7 linked regions of the Homo sapiens genome follow. The protein of the gene in region 7 purifies or fractionates together with the protein of the main gene of each other region. This does not show direct contact. Each region holds a gene or a part of one and is shown on either strand. Other genes may lie near its edges. The genes, in order: GPC4, SDC4, GSE1, PLCD3, FARP1, GPC6 and FGF1.

The links.
Region 1: the proteins of FGF1 (region 7) and GPC4 purify together in Homo sapiens (affinity purification with mass spectrometry; one large-scale study listed by BioGRID and IntAct). This does not show direct contact.
Region 2: the proteins of FGF1 (region 7) and SDC4 purify together in Homo sapiens (affinity purification with mass spectrometry; 3 studies listed by BioGRID and IntAct, with this or other methods). This does not show direct contact.
Region 3: the proteins of FGF1 (region 7) and GSE1 purify together in Homo sapiens (affinity purification with mass spectrometry; 3 studies listed by BioGRID and IntAct, with this or other methods). This does not show direct contact.
Region 4: the proteins of FGF1 (region 7) and PLCD3 purify together in Homo sapiens (affinity purification with mass spectrometry; one large-scale study listed by BioGRID and IntAct). This does not show direct contact.
Region 5: the proteins of FGF1 (region 7) and FARP1 purify together in Homo sapiens (affinity purification with mass spectrometry; one large-scale study listed by BioGRID and IntAct). This does not show direct contact.
Region 6: the proteins of FGF1 (region 7) and GPC6 purify together in Homo sapiens (affinity purification with mass spectrometry, with the first as the bait; one large-scale study listed by BioGRID). This does not show direct contact.

Annotation. Positions count from the first base shown.
Region 1 is NC_000023.11:133,303,990-133,307,489, forward strand, and holds part of GPC4 (glypican-4 precursor), read right to left. Parts: intron 2,166-3,500; coding exon 2,035-2,165; intron 1,930-2,034; coding exon 1,783-1,929; intron 873-1,782; coding exon 736-872; intron 1-735. UniProt on the Homo sapiens protein: Cell surface proteoglycan that bears heparan sulfate. May be involved in the development of kidney tubules and of the central nervous system.
Region 2 is NC_000020.11:45,331,425-45,334,924, forward strand, and holds part of SDC4 (syndecan-4 precursor), read right to left. Parts: intron 1,646-3,500; coding exon 1,599-1,645; intron 1-1,598. UniProt on the Homo sapiens protein: Cell surface proteoglycan which regulates exosome biogenesis in concert with SDCBP and PDCD6IP.
Region 3 is NC_000016.10:85,672,322-85,674,510, reverse strand, and holds part of GSE1 (genetic suppressor element 1), read right to left. Parts: intron 2,107-2,189; coding exon 1,972-2,106; 3' UTR 1-1,971.
Region 4 is NC_000017.11:45,119,016-45,122,515, reverse strand, and holds part of PLCD3 (1-phosphatidylinositol 4,5-bisphosphate phosphodiesterase delta-3), read left to right. Parts: intron 1-1,143; coding exon 1,144-1,305; intron 1,306-1,385; coding exon 1,386-1,614; intron 1,615-2,061; coding exon 2,062-2,191; intron 2,192-3,472; coding exon 3,473-3,500. UniProt on the Homo sapiens protein: Hydrolyzes the phosphatidylinositol 4,5-bisphosphate (PIP2) to generate 2 second messenger molecules diacylglycerol (DAG) and inositol 1,4,5-trisphosphate (IP3).
Region 5 is NC_000013.11:98,384,094-98,387,593, forward strand, and holds part of FARP1 (FERM, ARHGEF and pleckstrin domain-containing protein 1), read left to right. Parts: intron 1-636; coding exon 637-751; intron 752-1,573; coding exon 1,574-1,721; intron 1,722-3,500. UniProt on the Homo sapiens protein: Functions as a guanine nucleotide exchange factor for RAC1. May play a role in semaphorin signaling.
Region 6 is NC_000013.11:93,233,307-93,236,806, reverse strand, and holds part of GPC6 (glypican-6 precursor), read right to left. Parts: intron 1-3,500. UniProt on the Homo sapiens protein: Cell surface proteoglycan that bears heparan sulfate. Putative cell surface coreceptor for growth factors, extracellular matrix proteins, proteases and anti-proteases. Enhances migration and invasion of cancer cells through WNT5A signaling.
Region 7 is NC_000005.10:142,602,591-142,606,090, forward strand, and holds part of FGF1 (fibroblast growth factor 1 isoform 1 precursor), read right to left. Parts: intron 1-3,500. UniProt on the Homo sapiens protein: Plays an important role in the regulation of cell survival, cell division, angiogenesis, cell differentiation and cell migration. Functions as a potent mitogen in vitro. Acts as a ligand for FGFR1 and integrins.

The sequences.
Region 1 (3,500 bases), on a different chromosome or scaffold from region 7:
GAAGTAAAGAAGTATGGGTACTGGCTGGGTGCGGTGGCTCACACCTGTAATCCCAGCACTTTGGGAGGCTGAGGCAGGCGGATCACAAGGTCAGGAGATCAAGACCATCCTGGCTAACATGGTGAAACCCTGTCACTACTAAAAATACAAAAAAAAAAAAATTAGCCAGGCATGGTGGCAGGCACCTGTAGTCCTAGCTACTCAGGAGACTGAGGCAGGAGAATCACTTGAACCCGGGAGGTGGAGGTTGCAGTGAGCCGAGATTGTGCCACTACACTCCAGCTTGGGCAAAAGAGCGAGACTCCATCTCAAACAAGCAAACAAAAAAAAGTATGGGTACTTCTCTAAGTTACTGAGCGTCTAAGGGAGGGACACAGGGCATCAAGTCAGAGAATGGAACCTTTGAGAACTGGTTATTTATGAGGCTAGGCCATTGGACAAAGAGCCACAGGCATTAAATATTTTAAAAATAATGACACTATTGGAACAGCCCTAATACGAGACTATAACTACTGTCAAACTTTTGACTCAGCACTCTTTGTAAGTAACTGGGTGCCTTCTCAACACTCCTAGTGCAAAGCCTGTTCCTAAGAACACCTAGAAGCCTTCCATGTTGTTGCTACCTACTGTGAATTGCTTCCTGATGCCTCGGTTGACAATTGAGAGAACCCTCTCTGAAGGTCACCCAGGCATCTAGGAAGGGAGAAACTTCAAATTCATTCAACAGACACTAACCTGCTTTTGCCTTTCCCATTCCAACAGTCATCCTCATTGCCGTTTCCTGCAGCCATCCTCTCATCGTTGCAAACGTTGCTCGGAAGGGAGGACCAGAATTTCTTGGCCTGTTTCAGTTTCTCCTTGACATCAGTAACCTAATTATGAAACAACAACAACAAAAAAAGATCATTGTAAGACAAGACAAAACTACCTACAAGTGTGCCTTCTGGCCATTTCCAAAGTATCTCCAGAGTGATATGCAATTCATTTTCAACTTTAATTAGAAGAGGAAGATGCAACTCCAATTTATATCTTAGAAGTACAAAACCACTCAAATAATAGTTGAAATGCAAGCTCCAAAGGAGTGGCCTAGACCCCTTGCCCACCTCATTGTAAGTACCATCTGAGGCCTACCAGTCTCCATGCCCTGTAGGCACAAAGATAACATGCAGTCTCTTCTCCTAAGGCTTTTAGAGTCAGGATCAAGCATGTATATTATGCACTCTGTGAAACATAGCTGCTATTGCTCTTTCTCTCCATCCCTGTCTCCTCAGGCTCCCTCTTCTGTGTTCCTACTACTGTAGGAATAGTTTCTTACATTTTTGTAGCATATTACTGTGGATAAAGCAATTTGCCTACAGTTACTCACTTTTCTCCCATCTCAGCTTTTACTAAACATCATTTTATGTTAATAAGCCTGGAACATCTACTTCTCCCTCTTTGCCTCCTTGTTGGTGCCTTTTGAGAACAAGGATCTGCCTTATTTCTCTGAGCTTCTCTATGCCTAGCACAGTGATGGGCACATAGTAGATGTTCAATAAATGCATGGTGAATCTAAAGAGAAATTTTGAGACAAGACTTATTGCATCATAACTCCTTGGCTACCCAAGAACTTTCTGGGCTAGAAAATGGGACAGGCAGATTGACTGACATCCACATCCTATTTGCTTGAAAAGTGACACCTGAAAGACCCACACTTGTTAGCCTTCCAGCTAAAAATTCATTTTGAGCAAGAGTTTTCAGTTCTTTGTCATTAAACACGGCCCTTCCTGCCAAAACGCTCACCAGTCGGTCCAAACTAGTGCCAGCTGCTGTGGTTGGGCGTTCCTCGGGGTGATGTGGTCTGAAGCGAGCACTGAAGGCACTTTCAGAGATGGAACGAGAAATTCGTCCAGCTGGGAGGGGCTTGGGGGGTCCACATCCCTGGAAAACCTGCATTAGAGTAAGTGTCGTCATGTTAGGGAAGTCACTCCCAAGGCGGGAGGCGGAGGCGGGGGAGGTCCCTAGCTCCCCTTTCCAGCATCCTGCCTTCATTACCTTCTGAGACACTTGAACACTATTATCCTGCATGTTCATAATAGCATCAGAAATCTTCACATCGATGGGATCCATGACCGATTCAATGTTGAAAGGACCCTCTAGCCTCTCTGCCACCATCAGCATAGCATCTAATATGAGGTTTGGGGAAGAACAATACAGCATAAAAAGTCAATCATTAGTTTGGCCTTGGGTAAATCAATCTGATTTTTTTTTCTGTCTGTTTCCTGCATGGGGGCAGGGGAAGTAAGGCATGGATCATAATGAATTCTTGTTTTTATGTCTATTTCCCTTACACCAAACTGCATTTAGTCACTATGTATCACTAGCTCTCTAAAGTGTGAAATGGCCAGATGAAGGCTTAGTTCTACAGCAAGGAAACCCAATCAGGAACTTTCCTCAATACTGATTATTCGTGTGTCAGCCACTGTCACTGTAAGGCTCTTAGTTAGCTCCCAGATGACAAACCTAAGGCTGGAGACAAAATAACATGCCAGCTCTCCCAGAGACTTCCCTAGGATCTTCTCGTTTCACATTCCATTTACAAGAGTCAAAAACATAAATCAGTTAAGATGCTGGCATATTAATTCTTTTCTTTTGTTTTTAAAAACAAAACCCCTCAGATCCTTGAGTGCACCGTTGGATAATACAAATGAAAGGGTTCCTAGGAATTCTAATGACTTTTCAAATACTAAAACTTTGAATAATCCAATTTTTGTATTAAGAAAAACTTCTCATTGCAAATACAATGGCTTCAATTTATCTTAAGGCATGTACCTCCTTTTTTTTGCAAGTGAGAAGATGACACAAGATACAGTACACAAAATTAGTGGGCTCACAGTATATATCTTCACCGATTATCCTGCTTTAGACTCTGGAGTAGCATGGCATTTTCCAGTAAGCACTGAATCGCTTCAATAAAATACATTGTCTTTGTTTTCTTGCCATATATGTTTCTTAGGATTATGAGGCTTAGTATTTTTGCCTGCTACCTGTTTTACAAAATTAGAAGAACTTGGAAATGAAAACCCCAAATGACAAAAAGGATGCTTCATTAACGACAAACAGTGAACTTTTAAACTTGTTTATCCCCCCTTTACACTCTAGTGCTTAGTGCATGGCAAGAAAGGAGTTAGACCCACATTATCTATCATCTTCAGGTAGTGCAAGGATGGTTACTTGAAAGAAGAGCTAGTTCCCGGAAGATTGTGTCCTACCCAAAGAACACAGCTGACAATTGCAGCCCCCAGCTGAGCTTCTATCTAAGCTTTCTAGTGGAAAGCAGCATAGGCATCAGCATATCAATGAAACCAAATCTAGTCATCAAGCTTTCACCTTCAACCTAGAACAAATGCTACACAACATTTTAATGCACGGGGTCATTTCTCTAAACTACAATTCCGATGTCACAAACCACAAATAGATTTCCATGAAATGCAATTTTTAAAACAGTAATAACAAATGAA
Region 2 (3,500 bases), on a different chromosome or scaffold from region 7:
ATGTCAGGTGTTTGAACCAGAGTGCCTACATCTTGAATAGGGGCTGGGTAAAATAAGGCTGAGACCTGCTGGGCCGCATTCCCAGTAAGTTAAGCATCCTACGTAACAGAATGAGATAGGAGGTCTGCACAAGATACAGGTCATAAAGACCTTGCTGATAAAACAGGTTGCAATAAAGAAGCTTGCCAAAAACCACCAAAAACAGGATGGCAATGAAACTGTTGGTCTCACTGCTCATTATATGCTAATTATACTACATTAGCATGCTAAGAGACACTCCCATCAGTGCCATGGCAATTTACAAATGCCCTGGCAAAGTCAGGAAGTTACTCTATATGGTCTAAAAAGGGGAGGAGCCCCTAGTTCTGGGAATTGCCCACCCCTTTGTTGGAAAACTCATGAATAATCTACCCCTTGCTTAACATATAATCAAGAAATAACCATAAAAATGGGCAACCAGCAGCCAATGCCACTGCTCTACCTATGGAGTAGCCATTCTTTTATTCCTTTACTTTCTTAATAAACTTGTTATTGCTTTGCAAAAATAAAAAAGATGTTTGCTGCAGTGTTATAATTTTAAAATGTTAACAAATTATAAGCCATTTTTCCGTCAATAAAGGGAATCAGGTAAACTATTACGCAGCCTATAAAAATGACAAGAGCATTAAATTATGCAGGGAAATACTCATGACCAGTCTAAGTGAAAAACGCAGTTCATAGAATTATATATATATACTTTTTTTTTTTTTTTTTGAGAGGGAGTCTCTGTCGCCCAGGCTGGGGTGCAATGGTGCAATCTCTGCCCACTGCAATCTCTGCCTCTCAGGTTCAAGCGATCCTCCTACCTCAGCCTCCCAATCAAGTAGCTGGGACTACAGGCGCACGCCACTGTGCCAGGCTAATTTTTTGTATTTTTAGTAGAGATAGGGTTTCACCATGTTGGCCAGGCTGGTCTCGAACTCCTGACCTCAGGTGATCTGCCCGTCTTAGCCTCCCAAAGTGCTGGGATTACAGGCATTAGCCACTGTGCCCGGCCTATATATATACTTTTCTATCAATGCTAGGAAATAGCTATAAATGTAGAGAAAAGGAGTTGGTGTTGACGGTGACTATCCCTGCAGGGAGGATGGCCTACCAGCAACCTACAAAATGAGCCTGGGGCCAGATTTGTTTGTTTGTTTGTTTGTTTTAACACAGTCTGGCTCTGTCACCCAGGCTGGAGTGCACTGGCACAATCTTGGCTCACTGCAACCTCTGCCTCCTGGACTTAAGCCATTCTCCCACCTCAGCCTCTCAAGTAGCTGGGACTACAGGCACATGCCACCACACCTGGCTAATTTTTGTATTTTATGTAGAGACAGGTTTCATCGTGTTGCCCAGGCTGGTCTTGAACTCCTGACCTCAAGCCTCCCAAAGTGCTGGGATTACAGGCCTGAGCCACCATGCCCACCCCAGGGCCAGATTTTTAAAAAGCCTTCCCGCATAGTGGGGTAAGACCCCTCACTTATTCTGCCTATGGGGGCTGTATTTTCTGCCTCTCCCAATAGGTCTGCTATAGAGGAGCAAAGTGGAAGAGGCAGAAGCATGTAGCTACTTACCAAGGGATGGACAACTTCAGGGCCGATCATGGAGTCTTCCAAGTCATCTGTAAGGTCAGAATAGCTGTGTGAGTGAGGTCCATTACCCCAGGAAAATGACCCCTTCAGCCAGGACTGGTGGGAGCTCCACCTTACAACCAGCTTCCAAATGCTCAATGTCCAGCAAGCGAGCTTCCCCACCCCTACTTCAGTCATCTCATCTGTAAAATGGGGCTCCTCAGACCCACCCCCTGGCTCTTTCACAGGAATGTGTGAGCTGGCAGCTGGGCAGAGGCTTCATCAGCTCTAAACCCTTGCTCTGCAAAGTGTGGATCCAAAAACCAATAGCAACACCTGAGAGCTGGTTAGAAATGTAGAATTTCAAGGCCAGGCGCGGTGGCTCACGCCTGTAATCCCAGCATTTTGGGAGGCCAAGGCGGGCAGATCACTTGAGGTCAGGAGATCGAGACCAGCCTGGCCAACATAGTGAAACCCCGTCTCTGCTGAAAATACAAAAATTATCCACGGGTGATGGCACGCGCCTGTAATCCCAGCTACTTGGGAGGCTGAGGCAGGAGAATCACTTGAACCCGGTTGGCAGAGGTTGCAGTGGGCCAAGATGGTACCACCGCACTCCAGCCTGGGCGACAGAACAAGACTCCGTCTCAAAAAAATAAATAAATAAATTCCCTCCATACGTATTCCTAAATACATTTTTCCCAATAATGGGCTCGTAACAATATATCATTAACATCTTTCCATTACAATGCTTAAAGAGTTACATTATTATTTTAATTACTTCTATTCAATGAATTTCATTTATTTTCAATAGTCTCTTACTGTTGAATGTTTAAAATGTTCTTATCTAAAAATATTGTCATGATCAGAAAACATTAAAGCTAATATTTCACTTATTTAAAAAGAGTAAAAATAATTCATTGGTTAAAAAAAAAAGAAGAAGAAATGTAGAATTTCAGGGCTGACTGAATCAAAATCTACTTTTTTTTTTTTGAGACAGAGTCTCTCTCTGTCGCCTGGGCTGGAGTACCGTGGTGCCATCTCGGCTCACTGCAACCTCTGCCTCCTGGGTTCAAGCGATTCTCCTGCCTCAGCCCCCCGAGTAGCTGGGACTACAGGGGTGCACCATGACACCCAGCTGATTTTTGTATTTTTAGTAGAGACGGGGTTTCACCATGTTGGTTGGCCAGGATGGTCTCGATCTCTTGACCTTGTGATCCGCCTGCCTTGGCCTCCCACAGTGCTTCAATTACAGGTGTAAGCCACCGCGCCCGGCCAAAATCTACATTTTAACAAGATCCCCAGGGAATTAACTTTTGAGAAAGAAAACTCTAACTGCAATATTAAAACATTTCCTGGGCGACTATGTGAGATGATGGATATATTACTTAACTCCACTGTAGTAACATTTTTACTATCTATATGTATCCCATAATATCATGTTGTATGCACATAATGAAATTTATTTTTTTATTTTTATTTTTTTTCAAGACAGAGTCTTGCTCTGTCACCAGGCTGGAGTGCAATGGCGTGATCTCAGCTCACTGCAACCTCTGCCTCCCGGGTTCAAGCAATTCTCCTGCCTCAGCCTCCCAAGTAGCTGGGATTACAGGCACTCGACACCACACCTGGCTAATTTTTGTATTTTTAGTAGAGACGGGGTTTCACCATGTTGGCCAGGCTGGTCTCAAACTCCTGACCTCGTGATCTGCCTGCCTTGGCCTCCCAAAGTGCTGGGATTACAGGCATGAGCCACCGTGCCCGGCCATAAAATTTATTTTTTTTTTAAACCAAACACACACGTACTGAGTGCTTGGTAGGTGCCAAAAGCTTTAAGTCAGTTCAGTCCCCACAACACTGATGTACTATCTTTATTATTCCCATTTTACAGATTAGAAAACTGAA
Region 3 (2,189 bases), on a different chromosome or scaffold from region 7:
GTGAGATTTTGCCCTGATAGTTTGTAGCAGACTCCCTCTGAACACCTGTGGAACATGCTGACCTCCCAGTGTCTTTCGAGGGGAGGCCTGCAGCACAGCCCCTCGAGTTCTCTTCCAGCTGCTTCTGTGGAGAGGAAGGTGCTTGTTGACTGCTGATAATACTGGCGGTACATTCGTCTGAGTTTGCTAATAACTGGAAGATTCTTGGCAGACGTACAAAGCAAACTGTGCGGGGGCAGATAAAGCGACACGATGCCAGCTGCCAGCAAGCTGTTCTGCGCAGCAAGGGCTAGGGCCAAGGGCTCGGCTGCTGGTCACAGCAGTGAGCAGCCGGCACACAGGTCAGGCACCCTGCCCTCAGCTCAGGCCTCCACCCCCCAGACCAGTGACTGGCAGCCCTGGCCTCTGGTGAGGGCCCTTGGGAGCAAGAGAGGCCTTCTTGATCTAAACACTGCCTCCATAGGCAGTAACTAGGACAAGGAGGAAGACTCGCCCGTTGCTTTGCCTTGGTGTGATGAGCCCAGTTTCTGACCGTTCCTGTGCTTGTCACAGTAAGTTCAAAAAGGAGGGGTTCAGCTCAGACCTTGTGGCTTTTACAAAGCTTTGCGTTTAAACAAAGCCTCTGAAGTTCCTATTCTGTACCTGCTCTCAGACACCTTAGAATTATATCAATCACAGAAATCATTGACTTCCTGAAAGGTTTTTAAAAGCCCCCGCCCATGTGTGCACATGACTGTCACACATGGGTTCTACAGACTACCCCCTCCTCCCTTGATAGCAATGGGTAATATTTGCTATTAGCTTGTCCAGATGCTGGGGGCAGGCAGGGGGAGTGGAGGAGGTAAGCAGTAGCGCATGGCTTTCTACGGCAGCTTCTGGTGCAACTCAAACTAAAAATGAAGTGATCGCATAGGCGCCAGTGGTAAGCTCTTTTACTTTTCTTCTTCTTTAATTTTTAAAAACACTTCAATATTTTAATGTCCTGACCAGCAGCAGTACAAACACTAAAAGCAAGGTTTTTTTTTTTTTTTTGCCCAAAAAAAACCAAAACAACAAACAAAACCCCCAAACAGGAAAAACAAACAAAAATCCCCCAAACCACATATTAAAAATGGCAGGCTTTTTATAACAATAGTTAAAGTAATAAAAACATACAAAACTTTGTTTTTTTTTTAATATATATACACAGTACAAGGCTGAAGCACCTTTGACTTTTCTCTCAAAATTTACGTCTGTATGAAAACCCAACCCACTGTAGTAACAATCTGGTGGGTGTGAAGCTGTGTATACACAGAGCTCTGTACATGCTCCCCACGGAGTAATAAAAAGCTACCTTCAGTTTGTGAATTGGTTTTATCTTTAGGTAAGAAAGAGCTTTTCCAGGGAAAAGCCTTTGGGTTGCTTTGTGTGCTCCTAGGACTTGTTGCTTTGAAGAAAATTTTGCAGGAAAGTAAAATGAAACAAATAAGCCCTTTTTACTGACAATGCACCCAACCTTTTCAGCTGAAGCAAGTTTCACTCCTGGGGAGGAATGAGACTGGCCCCATCGCTGCGGCAAAAGCAAACTGGGCTTGAGGCATAGTAACATGGCAACACAAGAAAGAACAGAACCGGTTTGATCCACTCATATGCACAGGGGGCTGTTAATGATCAAGTTTTAGTGTTGCTAATGGAGCCTTCATGTTCAGATTAAGAAATAATGTGGGAGAGGAAGGGCGAAAACCACCTTTAAAAAGAAAAACTGTGGGCAATCCTACATTGGTTGCTCGCTGAATGACAACGGTGATTCAATTGCATTGACGTCAAGGTGAGTTCATTCATTTTTTCTGGAGCCTGGAATCCTTTGCTTCATGCATGGCACATTCTCATTTTGTAAGCTTCAAACCTCCCAGTGAAAAATATTAAATATTCAAGGTAATAAAATAGATAATATTTCTATACTATAGGTTCGGCCTAGTGCAAGGGAAACCGTCACCTGGGATATCCCTTCAGGTAGCCCCTAGGCCAGTGCATTGCAGGCAAGGCAAGGCACTTTCGTAAGTGGTCCAGTTCTGCCTGGAGCCGCTCCCTTTCTGAGACCATCTTCTGTTTCTGGCTCCTCAACTCCTGGAGAGAGGGAAATTTGTGTCAAAACCAACCCGTTTCCTCTGTAAGGACAAGCATGTAGAGTACAAACATGCTGGATGGAA
Region 4 (3,500 bases), on a different chromosome or scaffold from region 7:
CAGTGCAGGGCCAAAGGTCAGAGGCGCTGGACCCCGACCTCCAGAGCCCAAAGTGGCTTCTACCAGTATGGAATTCTGACAACTTACTTAAGCTTCCCTGAGCCTCAGTTTCCTTGTCTATTAGTACATGAGCAGGGCCTGCACACAGGAGATGCTTTTATTTATTTATTTTTTAGAGACAGAGTCTCACTCTGTTGCCCAAGCTGGAGTGCAGTGGCGCAATCTTGGCTCACTGCAACCTCCGCCTCCCGGATTCAAGTGATTCTCATGCCTCAGCCTCCCATGCCTGGAGATCAGCTGGGCAGGGCTGATCCTGGAGTCCTTGGCCTGTGACCCTGGAGCCAGGGTGGCCTCTGCTGTCCTCCTTGTCTTTGGGAAAGCAGAGGCAAGGTGCTTGGGTTACAGCAAGAGAGATCTAGGTTAGATGGTGAGACCTTCCTGATGGCTACGGTTTCACATCAAGGGAAAAAGGCTGTTGGTGGCAAATTCTGGACTTGAAGGCTGGAAGCCATGTGGTGGGGGATAGTGGCAGAAAAGGCAATTTTTTTTTTTTTTTGTTAAGACGCAGTCTCACTCTGTCGCTTAGGCTGCAGTGCAGTGGCACAATCTTGGCTCATGGCAACCTCAGCCTCCTAAGTAGCTGGGATTACAGGCATGTGCCACCACACCCAGCTAATTTTGTATTTTTAGTAGAGGTGGGGTTGCACCATGTTGGCCAGGCTGGTCTCGAACTCCCGACCTCAAGTGATCCACCCACCTCGGCCTCCCAAGTGCTGAGATTATAGGCGTGAGCCACCGCGCCCTGCCAGAAAGGGCAACCTTTAGTGAGGCCTGAGTCCCAGGCATTGTCCGAGGGCAGTTCCACACTGAGGGACTGCAGAGGCCGCTGCTTGGAAGGAAGGAGGGAGATGGGGTACGGGTTGGGGGGCGTTTAGGGCTCCAAAGCCTAAAGCCAAACCCAGTGCAGGAGGCTTCTTACAATCGGGGAGGAGGGGAGTCCTGTGAGGGGGAGGGAAGCTTACTGTGGGATGAAGGCCTGGGTTTGGAGAGGCTGGAGGATGGGGCAGCAGGTCCTAGCGGGGGAGGGCAGGGGAGCCTCTGGGCAGGTACGGCCTGACGCCCCGGGTCCTCCCGCCCCGCCAGGCCTGACGGAGGACGAGGACGTGCGCGCCATGCTGCGGGGCTCCCGGCTCCGCAAGATCCGCTCGCGCACGTGGCACAAGGAGCGGCTGTACCGGCTGCAGGAGGACGGCCTGAGCGTGTGGTTCCAGCGGCGCATCCCGCGTGCGCCATCGCAGCACATCTGTGAGAGGCCGGGGAGCGCCGGGCGGACAGGGAGGTGGGGACAGGCCCGGTCCTCCGCCCTGACCCGGCCCTCCTCTCAGTCTTCGTGCAGCACATCGAGGCGGTCCGCGAGGGCCACCAGTCCGAGGGCCTGCGGCGCTTCGGGGGTGCCTTCGCGCCAGCGCGCTGCCTCACCATCGCCTTCAAGGGCCGCCGCAAGAACCTGGACCTGGCGGCGCCCACGGCTGAGGAAGCGCAGCGCTGGGTGCGCGGTCTGACCAAGCTCCGCGCGCGCCTGGACGCCATGAGCCAGCGCGAGCGGCTAGACCAATATCCTGCCGGGGCTGGGAGGGAGGGCCCCATCCTTGGAGAGCCCTAACCTTGGAGAGCCCCATCCTTGGAGAGCCCCCACGCCCAGGGAAGGCAGGGCCCTGTCCTGAGGGCGCACGGTCTGGGTCGGAGCCCTTGGTCTTCGAAACTGAGGGTGGGGACACGCGCCCTGGCTAGGCCCAAGCTCCCACCAGGAGGGGTGGCGCGGCGCCTCCTTCAGGGAGGCCTGAGGCCTTCTGAGGGTGAAGACAGGGCCTCCTGTCTTTGGTAAGCCCCAGTCCTGCGGAGGAGACACTGCTACCGTGCTCGGGGAGTGCACAGGCCAAGGGGAAAGTACAGCCCCTAAACTGGGGATCCCCCAGACCCAGGTGGGGGTGACTTACCAGCCAGTTACCTGAGGGCTGGGGGCAGCCTGGCGTGTTGCTGTTATTTCCTGAGCACCCACACCTGGATCCACTCCTATCTGCACCGGGCTGACTCCAACCAGGACAGCAAGATGAGCTTCAAGGAGATCAAGAGCCTGCTGAGAATGGTCAACGTGGACATGAACGACATGTACGCCTACCTCCTCTTCAAGGTGGGCTTCCGCCCTGAACCCCAGCCCCTGGCTCTGCCATCACTCTGACCTCTGCCTGCCCCCAGCCATCTGAATCATCAGCTCCCCTGCCCTCTCCACCTGCAGCTTTTTTGGAGCGAGCAGCCTTTCCCTGCACAAAGGCAACATCTGGGGTTAGTTAGCCTTTTGCCTCCCCTGAGGCCACTGGGCCAGGAAGGGAGTGGGGAGCCGGGGCCCAGAACTTTCCTCATCCTCAGTTCCTACCCCTCCAAAGTGAGCAGCAAAGCTGTTTTCATTTCCCTGAGTCTGCAAGGCACCTTTTGCACGTGGGGGCACAGGCAGGAGCCAGCCTACAGGTGTGCATGTGCACGGATACACGTGTGCACCCTTCTCCACGCAGACCCTCCACTGTGGCACGTGTTGGCACCTCATGCATGGGAGCACAGGGGCACACAGGAGTGGGCTCTGCAGCTATGGCCCAGCTGGAGCCCATGGCAGACCTCTGTGTGCATGTGGATGGTGGGACCCACCTGTGACCCCGAAAGACAGGAGAGCCCATGGCAGCTGGACCCCTGGGCCACAGCTTCACAGGGATGCTCCATGAATTCTCATTGACTTGTTCAATGATGCTGGGTGTGAATATGTGCATGTCAGGATAGTAACGTGTCCACCTAGGGGAGTGTGAGGGCCCAAGGGCCCTGTCTTGGCCCAGGGTCACCATTTTTCCTTCCACATCTTGATTCCTGGGGTAGGTCATGGTGCAGAGGGGCAGGCACTGAACCAGAGAGACCTTTTAAGTCCAGCCCTGCCGGCCAGGCTCAGTGGCTCACCCCTGTCATCCCAGCACTTTGAGAGGCCTAGGCGGGAGGATTGCTTGAAGCCAGGAGTTTGAGATCAGCTTGGGCAACACAGCAAGACCCCATCTCTACAAAAAATACAAAAATTAGCCAGGTGCAGTGGTGCACACCAGTGGTCCCAGCTGTCCAGCTATTTGGAAGGCTGAGGTGGGAGGATCACTTGAGATCACGCGTTGGAAGCTGCAGTGAGCTATGATCATGCCACTGCGCTCCAGCCTGGGTAACAGAGCAAGACCAAACAAACAAACAAACCTAAAAAACAAACCAAAAAATCCTGCCCTGTAATTTACCAGCTGTGTGAGCTAGAGTCACAAGTCTTACTCTGTTTTTCCACCTGTGAAATGGGGACCATTGCCTTCTCAGATGTGGTAGATGACAGATGGGTCAAAGGGGCCAGGTTTCCTGGAGTGTCTGCCTCCTCTGAGCTTCTCCTGCTGCTCCCCAGGAGTGTGACCACTCCAACAACGACCGTC
Region 5 (3,500 bases), on a different chromosome or scaffold from region 7:
GTAGAATTTACTGCCAAGAACCTCCCCAGGCGGATGGGGAGAAAAGAAAAACCGGGAGCAGGTATGGCTGAAGATGGATGATTCTGAGGCTTTTTTTTTTGTAGGGGGGCGGGGGGGAACATGGAGTCTTGCTCTGTCGCCCAGGCTAGAGTGCAGTGGCACGATCTTGGCTCACTGCAACCTCCACCTCCCGGGTTCAAGCAGTTCTCCTGCCTCAGCCTCCCAGGTCGCTGGGATTACAGGTGCCCGCCACCGTACCCAGCCAATTTTTGTATTTTTGGTAGAGACGAGGTTTCGCCATGTTGCCCAGGCTGATCTCGAACTCCTGACCTCAAGTGATCCACCCGTCCTGGACTCCCAAAGTGCTGAGATTACAGGCATGAGCTACTGTGCCTGACCTTGAAGCTTCTTTCTGACTGATAGAGATGAGGAGGGGAGAAAACTGTCTTCTCACATCACCACAATTGATAAATGTATCCTGGCATCCCGTCTCTGAGATCTGGCCCTTCTGATGTTCCCCACCAACTGGGCTCACCTTATGTTGTCTGCTAGCTTCTGTTTGGCTCACTGGGGAATATTGACAAACTGGGAAGTGTCATTCCTACGTGACCTGTTTTTCTTTCTGTTTCTTTTTAGCTGAGATTGGGGATTTTGATGAAGCCTTGGACAGAGAGCACTTAGCAAAAAATAAATACATACCTCAGCAAGACGCACTAGAGGACAAAATCGTGGAATTTCACCATAACCACATGTAAGTCTCATTCTTGGCTTCATATTCCCTCTGAGCCGGTTCTCTCTGCCTCCAACCTACATGGGTGTACATCCCTCCACCCCCCACACAAACTATTGTGGAGAACAACACAAAGCGTGAGGAAAGAAGATCACAGAGGCTCATTGGGATGTGGTGATTCATCCTGGGCTCTCAGAAGCACAGGTCACCCACTGAAGCCTGGAGTTTAAGGATGCCCATGCTTTGGAACAAAAGAGAAAGTAAGAGCAAAGGACCATCCAGTCATCAAGCTAATGACAAATTGGGAAAGGGACGTGGTCACCTAGGGACAAGGTCAGAGTATCGTGAAAATCCAGAACCTTCATAGCATCTGCATTTTTGTTTTTGTTTGGATTAATATTTTCAAAGGACTCATGGTACTTTTGGTTGTTGTTTTAAGGAAGCATTGGAGCCTGACGGCCATGTGAAAAAGTGTTCTCTTGAACTTTGCTTGCAGGTTTAGGTTATTGAAAGCAACTAAAATCTTGTTTTAACCCAGTGGTGTTTTGCTTTTATATGAGCTTAAAGGAAACTCTTTGAGATTCCAAAAAAAACAAAAAAAACAAAAACTGGCTGAGTTTGGAGACTTTTGGGGTTTTATGTTCCATGAGCAGTGGAGGTTTTGTCCTAGCTGCTAGACTTTGGGTTACAGTGAATGGGAGATTGGGTGTCATCTGATCGGGTAGCCCCAGTGTTTGTGATGAAATGCCTTTGTATTTCCCAGGAGAAGCTTCTTAATCTCAAATTAATAGATACAGGGAATTCAAATCTCCTGGCCTTTCTGTTTAATTTTTGTTTTGTCAGTGGACAAACACCAGCAGAATCAGATTTCCAGCTCCTAGAGATTGCCCGTCGGCTAGAGATGTATGGAATCCGGTTGCACCCGGCCAAGGACAGGGAAGGCACGAAGATCAATCTGGCCGTTGCCAACACGGGAATTCTAGTGTTTCAGGTGAGAGCCTTGAGAACACGGCCTGGTTCCCTTGGTGACAGAGAGAGAAGAGCTGGCCCTTCAACTCTGATTCATATTCAGTGGGCTAAGACCTCTGATGGTTATTTTTCGGCGAACAAAGAAAAATTAACCTCATCTCAGGCTTTCTGTTTCCCAGGCCCTCAGCTCCCAGATTCTATTTCACTTACCTTTGCCCTGTTTGGGGAATCCACATTACAGATTTGTTTGGTTTTATTGACTTTGTAGCATCACAGAAACATGTAGCTCTCCATGGACCTACACTTAGAACACAGTCTAATGGAATCGAGATTTTAGGTCCCCGAATAAACACCTTTTTCACACTTACAGATGATACTTTGCTGTAATGTGATCCTTTTTTTTTTTTTTTTTTTTTCAAACACAGTTTGGCTTGAGCCAGCTTATTTGGTCGGGACTTCAGATATACTTAAAGAGTGTTAGGCACACTTTTAAGATACAGCAGTTTTATAAATTCATAAAAGCCACATTCTTGCAATTTTGTAGCAAAACACATACTGCACTTGAATTCTTACTTGTATTCTACTTAAAGACATAATGATTCTCTGCACTCTAAAATGTGTGCTCTATTGATCATTCTGCTATTGGACTGTTTCATTGATCAATGCTTCTCTCTTAGTAGCCTTATTGAAGTATTGTTGACGTACAATAAAGTGCACACACTTGAAGTGCATAGTTTGATAGGTTTTTATTATATATATGTATATCCTGTAAAATTCCCCACAAAACCAACAGAATGAACGTATTCATCACCCCCAAAAGGCTGTTCAGTACATTCCTTTTCAACACAAGTGGGTAACCTGTGCTTTTAGTTTCAAAGGGATATAGAGAAAGCACCCGCCTTTCTCATGAAATAGGATCAGATTTCACCCAGTTAGGAAGTTGTAAATATGTTCAGGACCTAAAACCCTTTATTGAGCTCTTCCAGGTTTGCTTATATTTCCCCCTTATCTTTTATCAAAAGAGTTCCAGTGATTCTCTATTCATGCACCAGAAGTTTATGACAGCATAATTATTACAAATCACATCCCAAGAAGAGTTAAGTTGGCTTCCTGCCAGGTAGTAGGGAGTGACATTGTGAGAGCAGTGTGGTATTCAAGGCGGATTTTTTCTTGACAGTTTTTGACCTGCACGCATAGCCTCTGAGTATCGGATAAGAGAAACAATAGGCCGGGCGCGGTCGCTCACACCTGTAATCCCAACACTTTGGGAGGCTGAGACGGGTGGATCACCTGAGGTCAGGAGTTCGAGACTAGCCTGGTCAACATGGTGAAACCCCGTCTCTACTAAAAATACAAAAATTAGCTGGGCATGATGGCGTGTACCTGTAATCCCAGCTACTTGGAAGGCTGAGGCAGGAGAATCGCTTGAATTTGGGAAGCAGAGGTTGCAGTGAGCCAAGATCATACGACTGCCCTCCAGCCTGGGTGACAGAGCAAGACTGTCTCAAAAAGAAAAACAATAAAGCCAAGTGGAGTTTTGAGTACTATCATTAAATTTCAAATCACAATCCTGAACCATTTCTAAAAAGTATTAAGAAGGAAAAGAAGTGTCTCACAATTGAATTAATGTGCTTTGATTGTGTTTGACACAATCCCTAAGTATTGGGAATACCTGGGTAATGTAGTCACGTGCAAAGCCTGTGTCTCGGAACCCACCTTCTTGCCAGTGCCCTATTGCTTCATTCTTGCCACGTTAAATGAACAGGCCTGGTGTTCCAGTGGGCTCCAGAGGAATTCTAAT
Region 6 (3,500 bases), on a different chromosome or scaffold from region 7:
AATAAGTGGGAGATAAGTATGCATACACAGGGGCACATAGAGTGGTATAATGCAGCAGTCCCCAACCTTTTTGGCACCAGGGAATGGTTTCATAAAAGACAGTTTTTCCATGGATTGGTGGGGATGGTTTGGATATGAAACTGTTTCACCTCAGACCATCAGGCATTAGATTCTCATAATGAGCACGCAACCTACATCCCTCGCATGCACAGTTCACGATAGATTTCATGCTCCTATGAAAAGCTAATGCCGCTGCTGATTCGACAGGAGGCAGAGCGCAGGCAGTGATGTTCACTTGCCTACTGTTACCTCCTGCTGTATGGCCCAGTCACTAACAGGCCACACACCATTACCAGTCCATGGCCTGGGGGTTGGGGATCCCTGGTATAATAGACACCGGAGACTAAGAAGTAGGGAGGGTGGGAAGAGGGTGAGGGATGAAAAATTTGCTCTTGGGTTCAATGAACACTATTTGGGTGACAGGTACGCTAAAAGCTCAGAATTCACTACTATATAATTCATCCATGTAACCAACAACCACTTGTACTCCTAAAGCTATTGAAATTTAAAAGAATAACAAAAAAAAGGATAATGAAGATTAGCTAAGCCATGCTATGATCATCAGCTCCCATCTGAGGGTCCAGCTGAAAGACCATATCCTTTGCCTTCCCTTCTAGGTACAGGCATAGGAGGCAATTCTAAAATGAGAAGGGTGGGCATCTCTGCTGGGGGACTGTTGAGAGTTGTCTGCCTCATCAAGGAAGAGACATGTGGGAAGAAATCATTTCTTTCTGTGCCTCTAGGCATTGTCATGAGGCCTTAGCTCCTGGAACTCTAGCCATCATCTTGTGTTTATTTGGAGGTGATCTGGTGGAACAAGGATCTGAGAGCCAAAAGACAGAGAGAACCTGGCACCCTGTTGATACTGCAAGCTTACAGCTTTCTCACTCCTGCAAGACTCTGCACTGGGACTTCTTGTTATGTGAAATAACGGCTTGCCCTGACTATGTAAGCCAGTTGAGTCAGGAATTTCTGTGACCTGCTGCCAAAAGTATCTTAACTGACACAGACTACTTGAGTTGAGAGTTTCAACAGCTCATCCTCTAAACTCTTTTATTGGAATTTCTAAGCAGCAGAGTGAAGTTTTTAATTTTTTAAAATTTTCCCTTTTAATCTTGTTTCTTCCTTCTCTCATGGCCTTATTCACCCCTTCTTCACTCCTCTCATCCTCCTCTGAGACCTTGGCAATCTCCTGCCTAAGCCTCTAAAATTTAAGTGTCTCCTAGCTGTCCTTCTTCCCTCCCCAGGGGCCTTTAATGATCTTTTCTCTAATCCATCCTGTGATACTGCTTGCCTAATCCAAAACAATACTTTCGTCATGTCACCTCTCTGCCAAGAACCTGAGATGATGACCTACTTTCTGTCATATAAAGCCTAGAATTTTCAAGGCCCTCCAAAAATCCAATCCCACCCTATCTATTCAATATCAGATTCCTTTCTGTGCTCTCCTCTGCACACCCTATTTTGCTCACATATTTAATTACTCCCTAACTGCCTCCTTCTTTCATGGCCCTTTGTCAAATGCTACCCATCCTTCAAGGCTCCAATTAAATTTTGCCTCCTCCTTTCAGCTTCAACCTCTCGTTGTTATTATAATCAGTAATGATATTTGGTACTTAGATTAAAACAATGCTATGTCAGTAGCTTAAGTACCAAATATCATTACTGATGGAAATTATGGCACAATTTGATTAATTCTCCATTAGGGTAAAAAATTTGAAGTTTTTTTTTCACTGACAGAGCAGAAAGTACTGTGACTTAAATTTCATAGTGAATTGTAGCTGATTACATGTATTTTGATAGTTCTACACTTTTGAGAGTTAGCAATTCATCTGATCCTATTTGAGAAATCTCTTTCTCTCAGTGACACTGATACTGTTAATAGTCTTCTGCTGGTTTAATGATATTGAGTTTTGTCTCCATTATGAAGCACACAAAAACTATGCTAAAGTATTTTTATTGCCATGGTAATTCAATTAACATTTCTGGGACACTTACTTCTCTCTTCTCTCTCTTCCTTCCCTCTCTCTCTCTTGCACTCTCTCTCTCTCTCTCTCTCACACACACACATACACAAACACACAACCCAGTCCTTATTCATTGTCAGTCACATAGTAGATGCTAAGTAAGTAACTTTGATCCATTTCACCTACTAAGTATTTCTTGAATCCTTCCTATTTCCATGGTCACCACTCTAGTCCTAGCTAGCCTCTCCTCCTTTTCCTGTATCTGTTTTTTCCCCTCAATCCTTTCTCTATAGAGCAACCAATGTAATATTTCAAAACTGTATCCAATCCTGATTAAAACACTTATTCAACAGCTTGTTAAGGGACTCAGGCTAAAGGCCAAAGTCACTGTAGTGAGTTTGAGGGATGTCAGGACTGATGGGGGTGGGGGAGGACGACATGACCCCCAGGTGGCAGTAGCACACAGTGAGCTTAATTTGGAAGACACTTTGGTTGCACGTGAAGGAAAGTCCCTCACAGCATGAGACCTTGCAGGGCTAACAAACGGGCCACCACCCAAAAGGGCAGAAGGTCAAGGAACTCCCAGGGGAGAAGGGCATTATGACCCAGGCAATGTCATCAGCAACAGGGTAGACAGCCTCAGGGCCAGAGAGCTGCTAAGGGCTGCAGCAGCTAGGAGTCTTTGATCACCCCAGGGTTGTCTTACATATGGCTAGCAGACAGGTACAGTTTTACAGAGTGCACAAGGCAAACATGCTCTAAATGGTTAAAAATCTGCTTCTTTGTGCTATATTTGAAACAACTGGATGTGTAGAAACTTGACTTTAGCACTACTGGGCTTTTTAACTAAAGGTTCAGGTCTGCTGTGAAAAAGGGAACAACTTACGGTCAAGAAGCAGGGGTTACCTTTGGATTCTTTCCGTCTATGTAAGTCATTAACCTGACCTTTGGGCCCCCTTCTCCAGTCTCCCACACCCCTCTCCCCACTCACTGACCAGTCTCCCCAGGGACTGGAACCCTCCTCATGTTTGCAGGGTATTCTCACCACACAGGAAATTTGTGCCCCTTCCACACTCCTGCTTCCTTACTGAAGGGCGCCCATGCTTCAGAACCCATTATTCTGCCTCTGATTTGATCAAATGCTCCTATAAAATGCTTTCACAGTGCCAGGTGTCCTTAGTGCTATGCATTTATCTCAGTTGGAATTAATTCATTGTGAATGGTGTCCTTAATTTCTGCTTCCCTGCTGGGATTCAAATTCCCTGGGGTTCTACCCCCAGAACCTGGTACAATGACTTACCCATAGTAGGTATACAATAAATACTCATTGCATGAAGAAAAAAATGCCTAGAAGAAAGAGAGAATGGGTTATTAAAATACCCAATAACCTGAATAATGTGAAAGTGTGAAACCAAATTTTGATTTTTTTTTTTTTGGCTACTAACTGGCACATTCATTTAAAACATATTTTTC
Region 7 (3,500 bases):
AAACAAGGAAACCCCTCCTAGACACCTTGTGTGTGTATCCTTTCTAGAGAGCTTGTGTGCGTATATTGCAAAAGACATACTATCTCATACTAATGGTAATGTACTGAGCACACAGTTCTGCACCTTGCTTTTTTTTTTGCTTAACAACTAATTGTAGATCTTTCTACATCAGGATGGAAAGAGTAAACTTCTTTCTTCTTGCTGATTGAATTGTGTTCCATTATGTAGCTATACCATAATTGTTTAACCATTTCTCTGTTAATATGCCTGTATTTTCTTATTTCTCTTTGCCTTCCTTATCTCCTGATTCACCCCCAGGATGATTCATAGTTTCATCACCTTTACCTAAGATGCAATTCTCCCTTCCTTGGAAGTCTTTGCTATAGAGACTCAGGACTTCCTCTAGCTTCCAGTGGCAACTGGAGTTTATTTAATTCACAGGAAGGAACTGGAAGCCACTGATGCACTTTCTCACGGGTCCTCCTAGGAATGGTTAGCTCTGAGAGTGTAGCCGTGAGGGAACAGGCCTATGGGCCTCCACTGTAAGCTGGGCCCTGCTCTCTCGAGCCTTCAGTCACACCACTTGCTCGCTCTTTCTGCTCCTATTAAACTTCAAACTTTCCCTGTTTTCCTGGGATCTTTGCACATGCTATAGCCTTCTCTCTGGGACATTCTTCCTCCAGATATTCACAAGGTCCTTCTCCTCCAGGCCTCAGCCTAAATATCCTAAAAGAGGCCCTCCCCAGAGTGTGTGACACTCTGCGCACGGGGTCCTTTCATCCCCACCCCATTCTCCCTGCCAATACCACCCTCCCCCACATCCTCTTCCTCCTCTGCCCCTTGTTTCTTTCATGGCACTTAGTACAACATGCAATGATTTTATTATCTAGGGAGCTACTGATCTATTTCTGCCTCCTCAGGAAAGTGTACACTCTGAGAGGAAGGGCAGAGATCTTGTCCTGTTCCCTCTGGGGTCCTCAGCACCTCCTACAGTGCCCTGCACACAGGGGGCAGTCTACATTATTTGGTGAATGAATGGTGTTGGGCTAATATTGGCAGAGATGATTCTCCTGGCCCATTATCAATAAGCTGTGCACTTTGAATTATGTCTCCAATAACTCTCTGAGGGGGGCAGTAAGATGGGACCACGTGGAGAGTTGTAAGGCTCAAGGCTGGGCTCTGAGCTGAGTGATCTTGGCTAGGCTGCATAGCCTCTTAGACACAGTCTCTTTTTCAGTAAAATGAGGGGTATTTGCGCTCAGTCTCCATAAAGTTATTTCTCAGTCTAACAGTCTATGGAGCAAGTAGATACATGGAATGCCAATAGAATATTCTTTGGCAATAAAAAGGAACAGAGTTCTGAGGCATGCCACAACACAGATGAGTCTGGAAACAGTGCTGAGTGGGAAGAAAGCATCACAAAGGACCATGTGTTTTATGTTTCCATTTAAATGAAATGTCCAGAATAGGCAAATCCATAAAGACAGCAAGTAGATTCAGGGTATCCAGGGCCAGGGTGGGTGGAGATGGGGGAATTATGGTTAAAAGGCATGGGGCTTCTTTTGGAAAATATTCTAAAATGGATTGTGGTGTTGGTTGCACAACTCTGTTAAGTTGTAAGAAAATCCATTGCATTGTACAACTTAAATAGGTGAATTGTATGGTATGTGTGTTATCTCAATAAAGCTGGTTTTTTTTTAAATGGTTATCAGACTTTATGGTTTTCAGAGAACCTTCACATATACTTTTGTGTCAATTTCTCAGCATAATCCTATATGTTTAAGAGAGATCAAAGGAAGGGGCTAACTTTTATTGATCACCTACAATGTGCCAGGCACCATGCTAGTTTCTATCTTGATATAAACAGTATAAAATTAAAGAGTGTGGGCTCCAGAACACAACTGCATGAACTCAAGTTCTGCTTGGCTGCCTATTAGCTGTGTGATCATCGGGCAAAGTATTTGCCTCTGTTTCCTTATCTATAGTGGGAGTTGTTGTAAGGGCTAATGCATGGAAAGTGGCCAGTACTCGTATGACTGTTTCCTCTGTGCTTTTGTGGCCTTTTCTCCTCGAAGTGTTCCCTGGAGGAAGGTGGTGCTTGCTCTGTCCTTTGGTGAAGAGCTGAAGTTTGGTGAGAGTGTGTTTTATGCAATGTTATACTTCTAAGAAGGGGAAAAATCATGACCAGACCCCAGGTCGAGTACTCCAAGTATCCTACTTTTTCCTGTCTTTCACACAATCTCTTGGGCTCCAATTATGGGAATGGATTGATCCAAATCCAGCGATACTCTCCTGCTTGGACCCTCTTGTGTTCAAGATCACACATGGACAAGATGGTGGGTGGCCATCCAGGATCCCATCTGTAGCCATGGAATGGAGTGAGGTTAGTTGCCTGGGACTCTTTTCAACCTATCGCCCATATATGTAGATATTTAGTCAAACACATTATAGGTGCGACAGAAACCCCAAAGGGGAGGTCTTTTTAGGTAATCAAGGAAGTTTTTTTTGTTTGTTTGTTTCTTTTTTCTTTCTTTTGAGATGGAGTCTCACTCTGTTGCCCAGGCTGGAGTGCTGTGGTGTGATCTCAGCTCACTGCAACCTCCACCTCCCAGTTCAAGCGATTCTCCTGTCTCAGCTTCCCAGGTAGCTGGGATTACAGGCACGCACCATCATGCCTGGCTAGTTTTTTTTTTTTTTTTTTTGTATTTTTAGTAGAGACAGGGTTTCATCATGTTGGCCAGGATGGTCTTAAACTCCTGACTTCAGGCGATCCACCCCCCTCGGCCTCCCAAAATGCCGGGATTACAGGCATGAGCCACCGTGCCCAGCCAATCAAAGAAGATTTTTAAAAAGCTTTTCATTTCCTATGCATTTCTGTTTTGCTGCCTTCAATAGCACCCACTTGTCTGGCCATGGGGCTGAATAGGGTTGGCTTTGCCATCTGTGGAGTTCCATCATGGCCATGAAGAGGCCTCATAGAGGTAAACAAGAGCCAGAGGCCTGCTTAGCACATGACTTCAGCCCTCAGCCATGAGTCCCGACACCAGGTTTGTTGTGCCGGTGAGAGTTCGTCTCAAAAGTTTCCTCTGTAAATATTATTTCTCCAGGATGTCCAAGTTTCATAGCTCATTTTCACTAGATTTCTTTCTGGCTAAGTTTCCTAAACATATATCCTTCTGCAAGTAGGGCTGGCAGGAAGGAGCAACACCCAGGCTGAGCGGCTTGTGTAGCTGGCTTGGTGTCCAGCTCTCTAGTGTGACTTCATTCCAGTTTTCCAGACCTACATCCTCTTGCAGCTGCTGCTGAGGACAGGCAAGGAAGGAGAGAGCATGAGAAAGTGGGGCCTTGGGAAGAGAGGGAGGGGCTGGCCACACAGCAGCAGCTTTTTCCTCGGGTAGCAGCTCAGGGTTGGGGGACAGAAAACCATTCAGTCAACACATATTCATCTACTAGGTGCTGGGACTTACGCTCAGCGCCAGCCATGGTCCCTGCACTTGGGG